3 separate regions of the Homo sapiens genome follow, and all the other regions are linked to region 1. Evidence: fine-mapped expression QTL. A gene starts in region 1. Each other region holds a variant in brackets. All regions are shown on one strand. Distances are between the middles of the regions. Region 1 holds the start of WDR27 (WD repeat domain 27). Region 2 overlaps WDR27 (WD repeat domain 27). Region 3 overlaps WDR27 (WD repeat domain 27).

Evidence for each region.
Region 2: its variant is fine-mapped to the expression of WDR27 in atrial appendage (GTEx, PIP above 0.99).
Region 3: its variant is fine-mapped to the expression of WDR27 in whole blood (INTERVAL, PIP above 0.99). The same link has a PIP of 0.9 or more in aorta.

The regions. Positions count from the first base shown.
Region 1 is chr6:169,699,062-169,704,287 of GRCh38, reverse strand. WDR27 (WD repeat domain 27) reads left to right here and starts at 2,259. Exons shown (of 26, transcript NM_182552.5): 1 at 2,259-2,737. It overlaps C6orf120 (chromosome 6 open reading frame 120), which reads right to left and starts at 2,162. Exons shown (of 1, transcript NM_001029863.3): 1 at 1-2,162. The coding sequence starts at 1,828. The coding sequence ends at 1,253. It overlaps PHF10 (PHD finger protein 10), which reads left to right. Exons shown (of 12, transcript NM_018288.4): 12 at 200-386. The coding sequence ends at 285. RefSeq lists a silencer at 1,796-2,165 and enhancers at 2,216-2,305, 2,626-2,705.
Region 2 is chr6:169,595,067-169,600,292 of GRCh38, reverse strand. The region is part of intron 23 of WDR27 (WD repeat domain 27); the gene reads left to right. Among named protein-coding and RNA genes, the nearest start is that of WDR27, 100 kb to the left of the region's middle. The variant G/TG (reference allele first, on the strand shown) is at 2,884.
Region 3 is chr6:169,569,400-169,574,625 of GRCh38, reverse strand. WDR27 (WD repeat domain 27) reads left to right here. Exons shown (of 26, transcript NM_182552.5): 25 at 2,086-2,207. Among named protein-coding and RNA genes, the nearest start is that of WDR27, 130 kb to the left of the region's middle. The variant G/A (reference allele first, on the strand shown) is at 3,071.

The sequences.
Region 1 (5,226 bases):
AATGAATTTTGCATGGCATTGATTACATTGATTAAGTTTACATTTTTTCCTTAAATTAAGGAACTCATAGTGCCCTTCTCACCACAAAATCCAGAGAGGAATATCATTAGTGATAGCTAAGGCAGAAGAGTTTAGATGGGCTTAAAATTCAGTCCTGTAAAGATAATTTTTCATTCTATATTAACAATTTTTTTCCTAGGTCGCTGGATTTGTGACTGTTGTCAGCGGGCCCCCCCAACACCCAGGAAAGTGGGCAGAAGGGGGAAAAACAGCAAAGAGGGATAAAATAGTTTTTGACTCTAATACTGTATATGCATTTAAGTGGAATATTTGGTGCCATTTACAACATTATTTTCATGCCAATAAAAGATTTTTTTTGCAAATTATGAGCTTAAAATCTGCAGTTATTTCTGTTAAAAGCTACGCTTACTCTCGAAACTAACTCCAGGTAGAGAATTCATCTTCCAAAGTATTTTATAGTAACCTTGGCTCACTCCAAAAATTCAGTGGAAATGTTTAGTAACTTAAGATACTTAACTGTTTCTCCATAGCCCCAAAAGTTAATTTTCATGAAACTTCCTAATCTACATTGTTTCCGGCCTACCATAGGTAGCACTGACAAAGTTATTTAATAACTGAAGAATTTTCATAGGTATGACAAATGGCCCACTAAGATTTGGTGCAGCTGGATTTAGAGTTGTCATTATTGGACTGGTACAGGAACAAACTTTGTAAATACCTGCCTGCCAGGAAATCCTTTTTGTATAGAAAAGTACCATCACCTACTTGGGGTACAGGCATGAGGCTTTAGTCCAGGCTCAGGGAAGTGTACGTAAATCATTTCCAACTTGATTTTAGTAACTCTTGAAAACTTACACCAACTTCGGTTAGAATCTCCAGAGTAAAATTACAAAGTTATCAACCTTTTGATTTGTGTCACAGCATGAAAGGTTGCTCTATTTTATATAAACCTGTTACTGCAATCATTTTTAGTCAACCTGCCTAATGAAAATGGAGTCTAAACACTTTGTGCACAGTCCTTTTATAGGAATTATGATCTTTAAAATACTGTGCTTGCTGCTTTTCCTATTTTTGGGGTAACTGAGGTAACAAAACTGCGTATGGCTTTATTTTTCCATCCCTTGACTAAAGGTACCTAGAACTTCAACCAAGTACAAGTAGCAAGGTTCACAGCAAACTGCAATCAGCTTCACAGATGGAGGGTTTTATATCCCAGAGTGTGGTCAACGACTCAAAAGAGAATTTCAAGTACCAGTTTCAAAATGCTAATTAATATCGTCCAGAGAACAGATTCCTCCTCTTGCGAGGCGTCTTCCGGGGCACCAGCGTGCTTCTGGCCGGCATCTGCGCCGTCGGCGGGGTAGGCGGCCTCGCCGAACGGGTGCTGCTCGACCGTGCCGTCGTAGTACACCTTCATCTCGAACTCGCTCTCCAGGTGGGAGGGGTGTCCATAGACGCCGATGCCCACTGGGCGCCGGAAGTGCGCGGGGATGGACACGGCGTCCGGGCCGCAGGTGGCCGATTGCAGCTCGTAGTCGTCGAAGCTGGGGTGCAGGCTGCTGGCGGAGACGTACAGATCCGCATCTCCCTTGAGGCTGCGCATCCTGAGGACTATCTTGCCCTCGTGGTTCAGCCGCAGGTAGCTGTAGTTCCCGGCGCCTATCTGGCCCTGGACGACGTGCAGGAGCACCCACTCCTCGGGGACCTCCTCCTCGTCCGCGCAGCTTCCCGGAGACAGGACCTGCGAGGCTAGGAGCAGCAGCAGGGCCGTCGTCCAGGGCGCGGCCCTCCCGCGGGGAGCGGCCATGGCTGGCGGCTCAGCTCCGGGGCCTGCAAGTGGGTCAGTGCTGCTGGGGACACCGGAGGCGCTCAGCACCGGAGCCTGTCCCCGCCGTCCGCACGCGGGTCCACGGCGCGTCCAGGCGCCTGGTCTGTCGCTGGGACTGTCCCTTCCCACCCGCGTGAGGCCCCGGGGAGGAGGGGTGGGTTAACCCCTCCCCCGTAGCGCGGCGCCCACTCAGGGCAGGGGCAGGGGCAGGGGCAGGGCCGCTGTGGCACCCTCGGACTCACCACCACTCCCCGCAGGGGGCCGCGCTTTATACATCCGGACCCGAGGCCGGAGCCTCGCCGGAGGCGGAAGTGACGCTAGGTCCGTAAGTGAGCCGGCCGGAAGCGAGGCTTCTCCAGCTGTCGCGAGATAGCGAAAGGGGCGTGGGCGCGAGGGGCGGCGGGCTAGTAACCATAGCGGCTCGCGTGGGTCGGCTGGCAAGTAACCATAGCGGCGAGCGTGGGGCGGAGTGTGGCTCGGTAGTCCTCTGCGTGCCCTCCTGGGAGCTGGGTGCTGTGAGTCCTCCCCTAGCGGGCTGGTCTCGGCGCGGAGTCGGCGCCGAACCCGAGCTGCTGCTCTGGGGCGTGTGCCTAGGGCGCAGGGCTGGAGCGCGGGGGCTGCGCGGTTGCTCGCGGCTCCGCTGAGGTCTCTAGGAAAGGGGGCGATTTGAGGGTTCCGCCGTGACCGCTTCCAACGGCGGACACGCGCGCTCTGGACCAGAGCCGTTGCCCGCTGTCTCGTCACCCGAAGCCTCCTCCTGACGCCGTGCTAGTGCGAGGGTCTCCAGGGGAATTCGGGGCACAAGTCGGGCCGGAGCATCCGGGCGGCCGCTTGAGATCGGCGCTTTGAGAACTGAGCGCATGTGGAGTTCGGAGGAAAAGGGCTCAGGTGGTTATTTTAATTAAAGCAGCTGTGTATAAGGAGCACTCAGATCTCTTTAAAAGATTCAGTAGTTTAGGAACGAACCAGGGCTGTAGAAATGCCCGGCCTCCTGCACCTCCCGTCGGTTCTGAGCTCCGAGGGCGGGAGCGTGGACCCTGAGGGCTCGTTAATTATGCCCCACTGGCCTTTCAACCTGCGTGGTAACTACCAGGCTAGGTTTTCCTAACTCGAGCCAAACAGCAAGTTTCTGACTTGATTATCACTAAAAGAGAAAAATTTCGATCTTTTCTAATCAGAAGGGAGTAATTTTCTCTTTTTAAAAATATTCGTATGTACATTAAAAAAACGGAAATGCACAGGATTTTATCAGTGGTACTCCTCGAGTAGTAGAGTTTTCATCTTTTTATGTATTTCTAAATTTTCTACAATTTACACACACTGCTCTGTACCAGTAAAGGAGTATTAACTCTACAGCTTCCAGTTTATCTGGGATTACTATCTTGTGTTTACTGACTTAACTTTAAGACTATGGTATCTTTAGCAATCACTTGTCACTGCCTTTTCCTGAAGTGCTTACCTAGTGTTAGGTGCACTAGAATCTCACTAAAATAATAAATTTAGTTTATTTTCCCTGACTTGTTCTGTGCATGTATGTACATGGATATTCCTGGGGATATCCTGTGACATTGATTATCCCCTAGGGTTGGCACAGCAGGGAGAGGAGGTAGGGATAAAAAACTTTATTATTTCTGCATTGTTTAAATGTTTTGTATTGTATTGCTTTTGTAATTCAAAAAAATGTTAAACAATTTATATTAGTGGAGGTAGGTTAAGTGCTGTAGCAATTCACCCCAATAGAACAGTTGCATGTTTCTTGCTCACACAGTCCTGTGTAGCGGTTTCTAGTCAGACGATTCCTTTGGGCAGCTCTCTGCAAGCTGCAGCCTAAAATTCTTCCATGTTGTGGTTTTTTTCCTTAGGCCCTCTGAATTCTCCGCATTTAGCCAGTGGGTGGGGAAAGAAGAGAGGCAGTGCAGGAGGAATTTATGGGCCAGGCACTCAACGACTACATGGCTGCACTTAATTGCAAGGGAAGCTAGGGAGTGTAGTTTAGTTCTGTGTCTAGAAGGAAAGGGAAGTGGCTTAGTGGAAAAGGAACAGCACTTACCGTAGTCTCTCTTCTGGTGACCAGATCTCTGCTCCACTCTTGATCCCACATGGAGAACACACTCTCCCCACCCCAAGGGGGACACTTTGTCAAGGTGCCTAGTGCAACACAGAACATTTCTCAGGATTGCACAGTTCTCTCCATCAGGCCTGGCTGTGGTTCCTCGTGGTCCAGAGCCCTATGGACTAAGAAGACAAACTAGTTGCTCTCCCCACTAAAATGCAGTGGTTAAATATGACCATGGTTTTTGTAACCATCTCCCTTTTGGAAAAGGGAGACACATGGCAGACACTGGTCTATAGCAGTTTTGAAGTGATGCTGGGGTGGAGGTGGGAGGAATTTCCCAACTAGACCCTGATTCTGCTATCTGGGAGGAATTCCCTTGTCCATTGTTCTTTTTCTTTCCTTTGAGACAGGATGTCACTGTTGTCCAGGTTGAAGTAGAGTGGCACAATCACAGCTCACTATAGCTTCAACCTCCGTGGCTCAAACGATCCTCCCACCTCAGCCTCCCCAGCAGCTGGGGCTACAAGCATGCACTGCCACACCTGACTACTTTTTTTTTTTAAAGTAGAGACAGGGTCTCACTATGTTGCCCAGGCTGGTCTTGAACTCCTGGGCTCAAGTGATCCTTCTGCCTCGGCCCCACAAAGTGCTGGGATTGCAGATGTGAGCCACTGTGCCTGGCTTGTTTGCTGAGGCCCTTGATTCTACCCTTAGTCCTTTTCCTCCACGGTCTCATCTGATGTGGCTATGAGGATGCTGTCTTGGAAGGCTGCCATAGCTCACTCCTGGAGCATGGCAGTGGGGACCAGGCAGTCAGCCCTGAGCCCACCGTGTGCCCTTACTCTGTTCTTTGCTTGATACTTCTTAGGCTTCATCGTGTCCTCACGAGCACAGCAGCTTCTGGTCTGTGTGTATCTCGTCAGCTCTGTGTGCTGGTGATGCCATTGTCGTTCTTCCTGTGTCTACTGTTCAAGCCTGACTTTATTTTCTTTTGGTCTCCTGGGCAGCTGATACCCTGAGGTTATGTGGAACAAAGGCTTGAGTGGGAAGGTAGCCATCCTAGGTCAGATCTTTGCTGAAGGGCCAAGACCTGATGGTCCTTTGTCCCTCCCTGCAGCCTCTCAGGGCACTCAGGTTTCCCAGTGCTGCAGCCCCTGCTCTTCGTACTTTCTTTTCGTGTCCATTCCGCTTGCACACCAGCCAGTTCTCTAGTCCAATTCCGTGTGTTGGCTGCTAATGCGTATTCTTTGCAATAATTTCCTGTAGGGCTGCAGGAGAGTAAGCCTGTGGTAAGTTTTCTGCGTTATTACAGGTTGTTGCA
Region 2 (5,226 bases), 100 kb after region 1:
ATGTCATATCTGTTTGTTAGTTTTCCTTCTAACAGTCAGGACCCTCAGCTGCAGGTCTGTTGGAGTTTGCTGGAGGTCCACACCATGCCTATTCCAAAATTGACCACATAGTTGGAAGTAAAGCACTCCTCAGCAAATGTAAAAGAGCAGAAATTATAACAAACTGTCTCTCAGACCACAGTGCGAACAAACTGGAACTCAGGATTAAGAAACGCACTCAAAACCGCTCAACTACATGGAAACTGAACAACCTGCTCCGGAATGACTACTGGGTACATAACGAAATGAAGGCAGAAATAAAGATGTTCTTTGAAACCAACGAGAACAAAGACACAACATACCAGAATCTCTGGGACACATTCAAAGCAGTGTGTAGAGGGAAATTTATAGCACTAAATGCCCACAAGAGAAAGCAGGAAAGATCTAAAAATTGACACCCTAACATCACAATTAAAAGAACTAGAGAAGCAAGAGCAAACACATTCAAAAGCTAACAGAGGGCAAGAAATAACTAAGATCAGAGCAGAACTGAAGGAAATAGAGACACAAAAAACCCTTCAAAAAATCAGTGAATCCAGGAGCCGGTTTTTTGAAAAGATCAACAAAATTGATAGACCGCTAGCAGGACTAATAAAGAAGAAAAGAGAGAAGAATCAAATAGATGCAATAAAAAACAATAAAGGGGATATCACCACCAATCCCACAGAAATACAAACTACCATCAGAGAATACTATAAACACCTCTACGCAAATAAACTAGAAAATCTAGAAGAAATGGATAAATTCCTCGACACGTACACTCTCCCAAGACTAAACCAGGAAGAAGTTGAATCTCTGAATAGACCAATAACAGGCTCTGAAATTGAGGCAATAATTAATAGCTTACCAACCAAAAAAAGTCCATAAATAAATAAACCATAACTAATGTGAACAATTCAGCTAAATTATAGATGTTACTGAATAGCTCTATGTCAAATACCAATCTCTTCTTTTTGTCTAGTGCTTCTCCTGTCCTGTTTAAATAATCTTTGTTCACTTCCAAATCATGATGGTATTGTCCTCTGTGCTCTTTTGAAAAGCTTTATTGTTTTTGAGAACACATGGACACAGGAAGGGGAACATCACACACCAGGGCCTGTTGTGGTGTGGGGGGAGGGGGGAGGGATAGCATTAGGAGATATACCTAATGTTAAATGACGAGTTAATGGGTGCAGCACACCAACATGGCACATGTATACATATGTAACAAACCTGCACGTTGTGCACATGTACCCTAAAACTTAAAGTATAATAAAAAAAAAGAAATAACTTCAAGAACAGTTTTTATATTTTATTTTCACGTTGAAAATCATTCAAATTTGCTTCAGCCTCAAATAGCACGTTTATGTAAAGTTAAATGAGCGCTGGCAGTAACCTGCATTTTTAAATTCTAAACAGGAAAAGGGTTAAAAAAATAGACACTTATTTTCTGTCGGCTCTGGAGGCCAGAAGTCTGAGATGAAAGCATCAGCAGGGCTGGCCCCTTCTGCAGGGTCCAAGGGAGGAACCCCTCACGCTTCCCTGGCCTCTGTGGCTGCTACAGTCCCTGGGGTTCCTTGGTGTGTGGCTGCGTCATGCTGGCCTCTGCGTCCATCTCCAAGTGGCCTTTCCTCCTCTGCACATCTCTCGTTTCCCCGTTCTTTCTCTTGGGGACACTAGCTAGGTTTGAATGTCTCCTCCAGAACTCATGTTGAAATTTACTTGCCATTCTAGCAGTATTCAGAGGTGGGAACTTTAAGAGGTGGATTAGGCCATGAGAGCTGGCCCTCCTGCAAGGATTAATGCCATTACCATGGGAGTGGGGTCCTTACAAAGGGTGAGTTTGTCCCTCTCTTGCCTCTAGGCCCTTTCACCTTGTGCTGTGTGATTATGCAGAAGGGAAGCCTTGCCAGATTCTGGCTCTTTGACCTTGGGCTTTCCAGCCTCCAGGACTGTAAGAATATACATTTCCATTCTTTGTATATTACGCAGTTTCAGGTATTGTGTTATAGCATCACAAAACAGACTAAGACAACACTGATAATGGATTTACAGCCCACCCTAAATCCAAGCTGATCTCAATACCCTTCAGTTAATTTCTTCTGCAGAAAATCCTTTTTCCAAATAAGATCACATTCTTCATATTCAGGTTCAGCACTAGCTATGATGGAATAGCGTGAAACTAACTAGGGTGCCTATCAGAACTACTACACAAACCCTGGTTTAACTAGGTTATGAGATGCAAAGGGGCAGCTCACATTCTGTAGGTACTTTTTCTCTGAAGGAGTTTGCCATTTCTAAACAAAAAAAAAAAGAGACCTATGTTTCAGGCAAAGGCCATACAGAGGGATGCATCTGTGTGTGTGTGTGTGTGTGTGTGTGTGTGTGTGTGTGTGTATGAATGGTAAGAGGTGAAGTTGTGCATAAAAATTGGCAGAACTTTTTTTTGATATTGCAGGGATGTAGAGATAAAAACTTGAAAACTTTAGGGCCATGGAGGGTCAAGTGCCATGCCTGACACTACCAGTATTCCTGTCAACATATTTTATTCAATTCTGGAGCTAAGGAGGGCAAGAAACAGGTAGGCTCAGCAGAAGACCTTTAGAAGCAGAGTAGGGTTTTTAACAATATTTCAGGGCTGAGGCTATGAATATTAGAGGTCAGTACCTGCTAGTAGGGTGGGAATTCCCAATGGACACCTTAGCTTACCCCTGGATAAACCAGGAGTTGATGGAATCTCACCCAAGCTGCAATCCAGCCTTGAGTCTGCTCAACTCTGTTTATAGTAAGGAAGTCTTTTCTTGCTTCATCTGCCCACCTTTCTGGAGTACAATAATGTAATTTTGAGCCTTGGGAGTTTTTTTT[G/TG]TAATATACATAGCATTTAGCTTTCAGTCAAAAATTACAAGTATGTCAAGAGGCAAAAAATCAAGAAAAAAAAACATAATAGAAACAATACTATGGGTGACCCAGGTATTGGACTTAGCAGACAAGGTTTTAAAAATAACCATGATTAATATATTCAGGGAAATAGAGTACAAGTCAGAGACCACAGATATAAGGATGGAGAATTTTACTGCATTGTTGGACTTTCCTAGAACTGAAAGATATATCATTGGAAATTAAGAGTGTAGAGACAGAAGTGTTGAAAGTAGCAGGATGGGAAATGAAGCTGATATGATAATACTTTAGTGTAAAGTAGACTTTGGGTCTTAATGCATTACTAAAAATAATGAACAACATTTAATATGACAAAGATGCCAATTTATGTAGAAAATGTCATAAACCTGTATGCACCCAATAACGTAGTTTCAAAATATATAAATCAAAAATGATATAACTCTAAGAAGAAAAAGAAGTATCTTCAATCATAATGGAAGACTTTAACAAACTTCTCTTAATGACTAGAAATGACTAGAAAACAGATTATTGATGATCATGACACTTTTTAATGTAAATATGATTACACTTTTCTTTGTAAATACTATGTGTTTAAAATATTCTGCAAGCTCTCTATGTAGAACCAAGATCTTATGTGTGTCTTAAAAGGACTTTCACAACATGCCTCCAAATTACCTATCTTCTCTCTCTATTTTTTTCTATATCTCCTGATTTCTGTGTCATACAACTTCTAGATATCACAGTTTTTTTTAATAATACAAAAAAAAATAAGGATGAACCAAAAAATATTCTCACAGACAACAAGAGTACACCATAAAAATGTGTCTGCTAAACAGGTGAAAACTAATGATATATTTGCAAATTAGCTTAAGAAAGTTAAGAAAACACATAAAACATCAGAAATTGCTAGACAACAGGAATATATGAAATGAGAACTGATGAAAATTAGGAAAGCATTAGAAAAAAATTCAGAAATAAAGACCAAATACAAAGGAATATAATAGAAAGCAAATACAGAGAGCACAATAGGGAAAAAGGATACAAATGAGAGAAGTAAATAAAGAAAATGATAAAAGACATTCAAGATGAAAGGTAAATATAGAAGTTCGGTAAAAGAGATTCAACCTACATGTAAAAGGAGTCCCTGGACATTTTTTTAAAAAGTCAATTAAACAGAACAAATACTATGATAGTTCAAAAATATATTTTCTAAAATTAAAAAAATTTAGTTAAATCTAGATATTGAACGAATACCTGGGAAAATTGACTCAGACTAGTTTGCACAGAAATATAGCTTAACAAATCTATTTGACTATAAACATTAACAAAAAAACACCTTTGTGGATCCATGTAAAATGTTCAAATGCTTATAAGGGAAAGAGTATCAGCTTGGATTGGATTTTTGTAAATCATCTTTTTTTGTTAAAAAAACATTGGGAAGAATGTATTTTACTTACTCAAAAAGAGAATCTGAGTCAAGAATTTTAATATCCAGCTAAATTTTTTTTTGAGTATAAAACCAGACACACAGTTATGAATATGCCAGAACTGAATGGTGTTCCCTTGAGTTATATTGAAAAAAAAAAAAATAAAGCTGTATAAAACCAAGGTAAGATTGAAGAAGTTTCAGCAAAAGCCTCAAGGTGAGCACTGAATATGTTTAACTATGTAAGATAAAAAATGGGAATGAAGGTACCAGAATACTTTGTAAATATTCTATCTGTTATAGTTTAATAGTACAAAACTGGGAGATGTGAGAATATAACTAGAAAGTAGAATACCTCTCTTGATTCTCCTTGTAGATGTTAATTGAATAAGAAGAGATCAGTTGAAGCTGACAATAGAATTGTAAACTCTTAAATGTAATTAAGAGTATAAATATTAAGATAATTATGATTAAAATTGGATGTAGAGGAAGAGAGATGGAAAAATGGTTGCTAGACAACCTCACTATTGGGCATAGTAGGGAACTAACATGCATTGTCTTAGAGAGGAGTGGACCAAGAGTTTTGCATAAAGCTTTTAATAAAAGATAACTGCTGGAAGAAGAATTCTACCATTTTTAAGTGCCCAAAGAACTATCTAGATAGGACAAATAAAATAAACCGTAAACTGCCATACATTAAATAGAATTAAAAATAAAATACTATGATGAAACTGAGATGAAAATGTCAGTCATATTGATGTCTTTGTGGTTGTTGTTTTTGTTTATTTTTGAGTCTTGCTCTGTTAGCCCAGGCTGAAGTGCAGTGGCACGATCATGGCTTACTATGAGCTTGAACTTCTGGTCTCAATCCATCCTCTTGCCCC
Region 3 (5,226 bases), 130 kb after region 1:
GAAAGATCTGGCACTGCAGGATGAGCTTCCCACCTCTCGCTGGGACCGAGGCTGGCACGTTCTGGGAACCCTGCTTTCGAGTGTGTCACCTGGGGCGGATGTGGCACTCACCGATCTTGTTTCAGGGAACTCACATCACTTTTGAAAAGCGGGAGACAGATTCCATGACTTGTTTTTGTTTTGTTTTAATACATTTTAATTGTGAGAACGATTATCCCCTTTCCAAAACTAAAGTTTTGAGCCTCTCAGAGTAAATTTCTAGATACGCTTAAAAAAAAGTAATGTTTTTCATCACTGTTACTGCTCAGTTGTCAAAATAAGACTTGTGAGTCTTTGGGAAGAAGAGGATTATACTTGTACTTACAAAATTATTCTAACAATGCCTGTGGCTAAGAGGACCCTCAAAATGAGTAAGGAACTGTAACAGCTCACAAGGGACCACAGGCTCTGCAGAGTGGCTTCGGAATCCAAGACTCTGAAGCACACCTGGGTGTCCTGCCAGGAACTGCAGCTGCGCGCCACATGCGCCCTGTCAGATGTGACTTAGGGATGCGTTGTCAGCTTCAGTTTGTTGGACATCTGAGGACAGTGGTATATTTGCCATAAGATATCAGTGTAGCTGTTTAACTGCTTAGGATGGGAACACAAATTCAAGAAGCTCCATAGTTAAATTATCCTGGCTGAGATGGTAGCCAAGCAAGACTTATTTCCAGCAAAAAACTAGCAAGGCAGAAGTATCTCAAACCACAGATGCAAAAGACGAAAGAAAGCTGTGATGTAACTGATGGGTCCCTGAGTGTGAAAGTGTGGGCTGCAGAGGGAGCCTACTGTTCACACAGGGAGTTCAGGAAGAACAGGAAGCGTGCAGGTTAAGTATGGAGAAAGCTGCTTCACACGCGGATACACAGAGATATAATTTATTGGAATGGATAGCAGAGTCACAAATATCACATTACCTTATATTATCAAATTGATTTTATATTACTATCGCAATCATCAATTTTCTATTGTCAGTTGTAAAATAGTTACAGTCATCCCTCGGTCTACATGGGGGATTGGTTCCAGGTCCCCCGTGTGCTCCCAAATCCTCACACACTCAAGTCCTACAGAACCCACATAGTCTGCCCTCCATTTGCCTGGGTTTCACATCCTGGGGGGCTGTATTTTTGATCCGAGTTTGGTTGAAAAATAATCCATCTATAAGTGGACTTGCACAGTTCAAACCCTTGTTCAGGGGTCAACTGTAATGAAATAAAAGAGGATTAATGTAAGATGATATAAAAACTTTTCATATTGTATTGGGTAGTTGGGCTTTATTTTCAATTTTGCATTTCTCAGTTGTGCAGGATTTATCATAAGACTTGCTTTGGTCTTTCCAGCTATACTGAGTTACATCTAAACCATGTCAGTACTGTTACCCTAGAACACAATGTAGAAACTTGGGGGGTTCTCGGAGAGTTTCAGTGAAAGACAAGACACAGACGAAGGCGGAGGTCTGCGTGCAGAGCCCAGGTGCACCCCGGGAGGCTCGGGCTGCAACACAACCTCCTGGGAAGGGAAGAAAGCAGGAGTGCGGAGGGAAGGTCTGCAGGGTGGCGTGGGGACGGCTCTGTTTTGGGGGCTGGTATGCGGCGCATTGACACATGCAGGAAAGGCAGAAACAGACATTTGCAAACTGATTTATCTATAAGTAGTTATATCATGTAGAGTGGACATTGACATGGTTTTCAATATTTTGGTACTATAAGTAGTGTTTTGATGTATGTCTTTGGGCATAAAATGTTTTTTGTATCTGGGTTTATTTTCTCAAGATAGATTACTTTCTCAACAAGTAGTATTACTGAGAAAAATAAACTTTTAAAGGGTTCTGCTATAGACAAATGCTTCTCAAAGTGTTTCCTCTTGTTTGCTTCCTCACCAGCTTTGGTTGTTCACACTTGCATTACGTTTGTTAATTATCAAGAAACAGTAACTCCCGATTTTAATTTACTGCTCTTTGAATACTAATGAGATTGCACATTGTCCCACAGGCTACTAGGTATTGGAATTCTTCTAATTTTTTTTTTTTTTTTTTTTTTTTTTGAGATGGAGTCTCGCTCTGTCGCCCACGCTGGAGTGCAGTGGCACGATCTCGGTTCACTGCAACCTCCGCCTTCCAGGTTCAAGCAATTCTTCTGCCTCAGCCTCCCGAGTAGCTGGGATTACAGGTACCCACCACCACACCCAGCTAATTTTTGTATTTTTAGTAGAGACGGGGTTTCACCATGTTGGCCAGGATGGGATGGTCTCGATCTCTTGATCTCGTGATCTGCCCACCTCGGCCTCCCAAAATGCTGGGATTACCGGCGTGAGCCACCACGCCCGGCCCAGAATTCTTTTAATTTTTAAATTGCATGTTTATATCCTTCATCTCTTTATACTTCAGACTCAATGTTTTACCTAATGATTGCTGTAGCTTTTAATTTAAAACTAAAATTTTCATCTTTGTATTTACACTATATGTTTCCTCTAGATTTGGTTTGGCTTTTTGTGTTTTGTTTTCTTTTTCCAGTTTGATTTATTCTGATTACCTTAGGCCTAGAAAATTTTTCCTCCAGAGATCTGTGTCTCTGCTGAAATTACAGAACTTTTAACATATTATAATAATTTTTAATTCCTGACTGACAGTGCCAATATCTGGGTTATTTCTGAATATAGTTCTGTTAATTGCTCTGTCGAGAGACAGTTGATCTCCCTCCAAACCTCCCCTGCTCTTTGGTGTGTGTTGTAGTTTTTTGTTTGTTTGTTTTAGACAGGGTCTTGCTCTGTCACCCAGGCTGGAGTCCAGTGGTGTGATCACGGCTGACTACAGCCTCAAACCCCCTGGCTCCAGTGATGCTCCCACCTCAGCTTCCTGAGTTGCTCGGACTGGCAGTCTCAAGCCACCACCCCCGACTAATTATTTATTTATTTATTGTTTGTATTAAGATGGAGTCTCACCAGTTTGCCTAGGCTGGCCTTGAACTCCTGGGCTCAAGCGATCCTCCTGCCTCGGCTTCCCAAAGTGCTGGGATTGCAGGTGCGAGCTGCC[G/A]CACGTGGCCCAATGCAGTTTTTGAGTGGTTGCTGGGTGTTGAATGTGGAACGTAAATGTTTATGCCAGGATAGCATGGCTCTTTTCCTGCTAATTGCTGGTTTGAGTCCGAAAAGTTGGGAATTCAGCTGCATGTCGTTCACTTTATTAAGACTTTGATGAGAGTGGGGTTATCAGAAGTAATCTGTGTGAGTCATTGTACAAATAGAAATGCAAAGACAGCATTGTTAACTTCTGGGAAACTTTAAATCTCCAGTATTCTTCATTGAGTCATCTTTTTATTTATTTTTTTTTTAATTTTTTTCTGACTAAGGTATGTGGGTGTGAAATTTAAATCTGTTTTATTTAGGCTGTATTACTTTGAGAGTTGTGGTTTAGCTTTGCCAGGGAAAAATGACATAAGCATATACCTGGAGGAAAGGTTACATTCCTTGGTTTTTACATGGGATAAAAACCTGTGATATTTGTGATCACTGTATCCGCTAATTTATAAATTCAGGAGCAAGATTGCACTATTTCTTTCTAAGAACTCATAATTGAAACAGTCTGCTCTGTGGTGATGCTTGTATACAGAGAATACCGGGCAGGGAGTGGGCCTGGCCGAGAGGGCAAGGCTGAGGTGCAGCTCCTGCTGTCCCCTCCTTCCTGGCCGCCACGGGAGACTCCTGGCCTGCGTCCTGTCTTATGAGGAGAGATTTCCTAAATAGAGCTTTTTTCTTTTTTTTTGAAACGGAATTTCGCTCTTGTGGCCCAGGCTGGAGTGCAATGGCACAATCGCAGCTCACTGTGACCTCCGCCTCCCAGGTTTAAGCAATTCTCCTGCCGCAGCCTCCCGAGTAGTTGGGATTACAGGTGCCCGCCACCACGCCTGGCTAATTTTTGTATTTTTAGTAGAGACGAGGTTTCACTATGTTGGCCAGGATAGTCTCCAACTCCTGACCTCAGGTGATCCGCCCGCCTAGGCCTCCCAAAGTGTTGGGATTACAGGCGTGAGCCACTGCACCTGGCCAGTTGAGCTTTTTAAAGATAACAGAAAGGACTGCTGAGAATGAGTAAACCTATGTCCGTAAAGAGAATTGCATGATTTACTGCAAGTATTCCTGGGAGTGAAGCATCACGTACACACTGCTGGTCTCGTGTCCTCCTGAAGATAGCCCCTCACACTTCACAGTGGTTGGAGAAGGTTCTTTTTCTCTCCTGTCTTCCCTCTGGGTCCCACCTGGTCTAGCATTTTCATCTGTGTTGAAATTTGTTTTTCATTTCTGTTTTAGTCCTTGTGTTTGTCCTTGTTGAAAGTTAAGTTGTCAGCTACCCAGGTCTTTCTCGTTGACTAAACCACCCCCCAACCCCATGCTCCATGAAGAGCACCTGTGGTTTCCTTGTGGCCATGAGTGTTGTGGTGGGACCAGCATCAAGCGCAAGAGATCTGCCGAGTCCACGTGGATACACTATGACCCCGCAGACCATGAAGGTAGATGAGGAGGTAATGGCATTCCGTGGTGCCCAATGTGATGGCATCAGGGTTCTTCCTAGCAGCATGGAAGACACTCCTGCCCTCAAGAGGGCTAAGTCCAGTAAAACCCAACCAACAGGAGATAGTTGGGCAGGAAGACTCATTCTGAGTGTAGATGGCTCTGGGTTTTGTGAGAGGGTGAAATCTTTGGTCGTTAAACAATTCTAGCTGCCCTAGAATGGTAACCCCAAGTCACTTCAGACTGGAAAAGATTTTAGTGGCTAGAATTAAATGTAGAGATGGCAAAATACACCAAAGCCACAGCATTAATAGACTTGCATGAATTTAGGAATAACCTGGAATAATTAATATTTAAGGCATTTGCAATGCTTTAAGGATGTTGATATTTTAAAAGATCTGATTCTAATTTGACATCTGTATTGACCTTGGACTTGTGACTTCTTAGTTGAGAAAAAAAGGAAAATATTACTAAGTTTATAAGTATTTAAATTTTTAAGAGAACTTAAAATTCACCATATTTATGTTTGCTTTGTTAGATTTTTAATAATTGATTAAGAACTCAGGACCATCTTACATTTTATTTTTGTCATTTAAGTATTCAAGAAAATCTTATATAGTACATTTAAAATGAAGCTTAACAATTTTAAAATACTTTAACAAAGTTGTAACTTTAACTCATTGC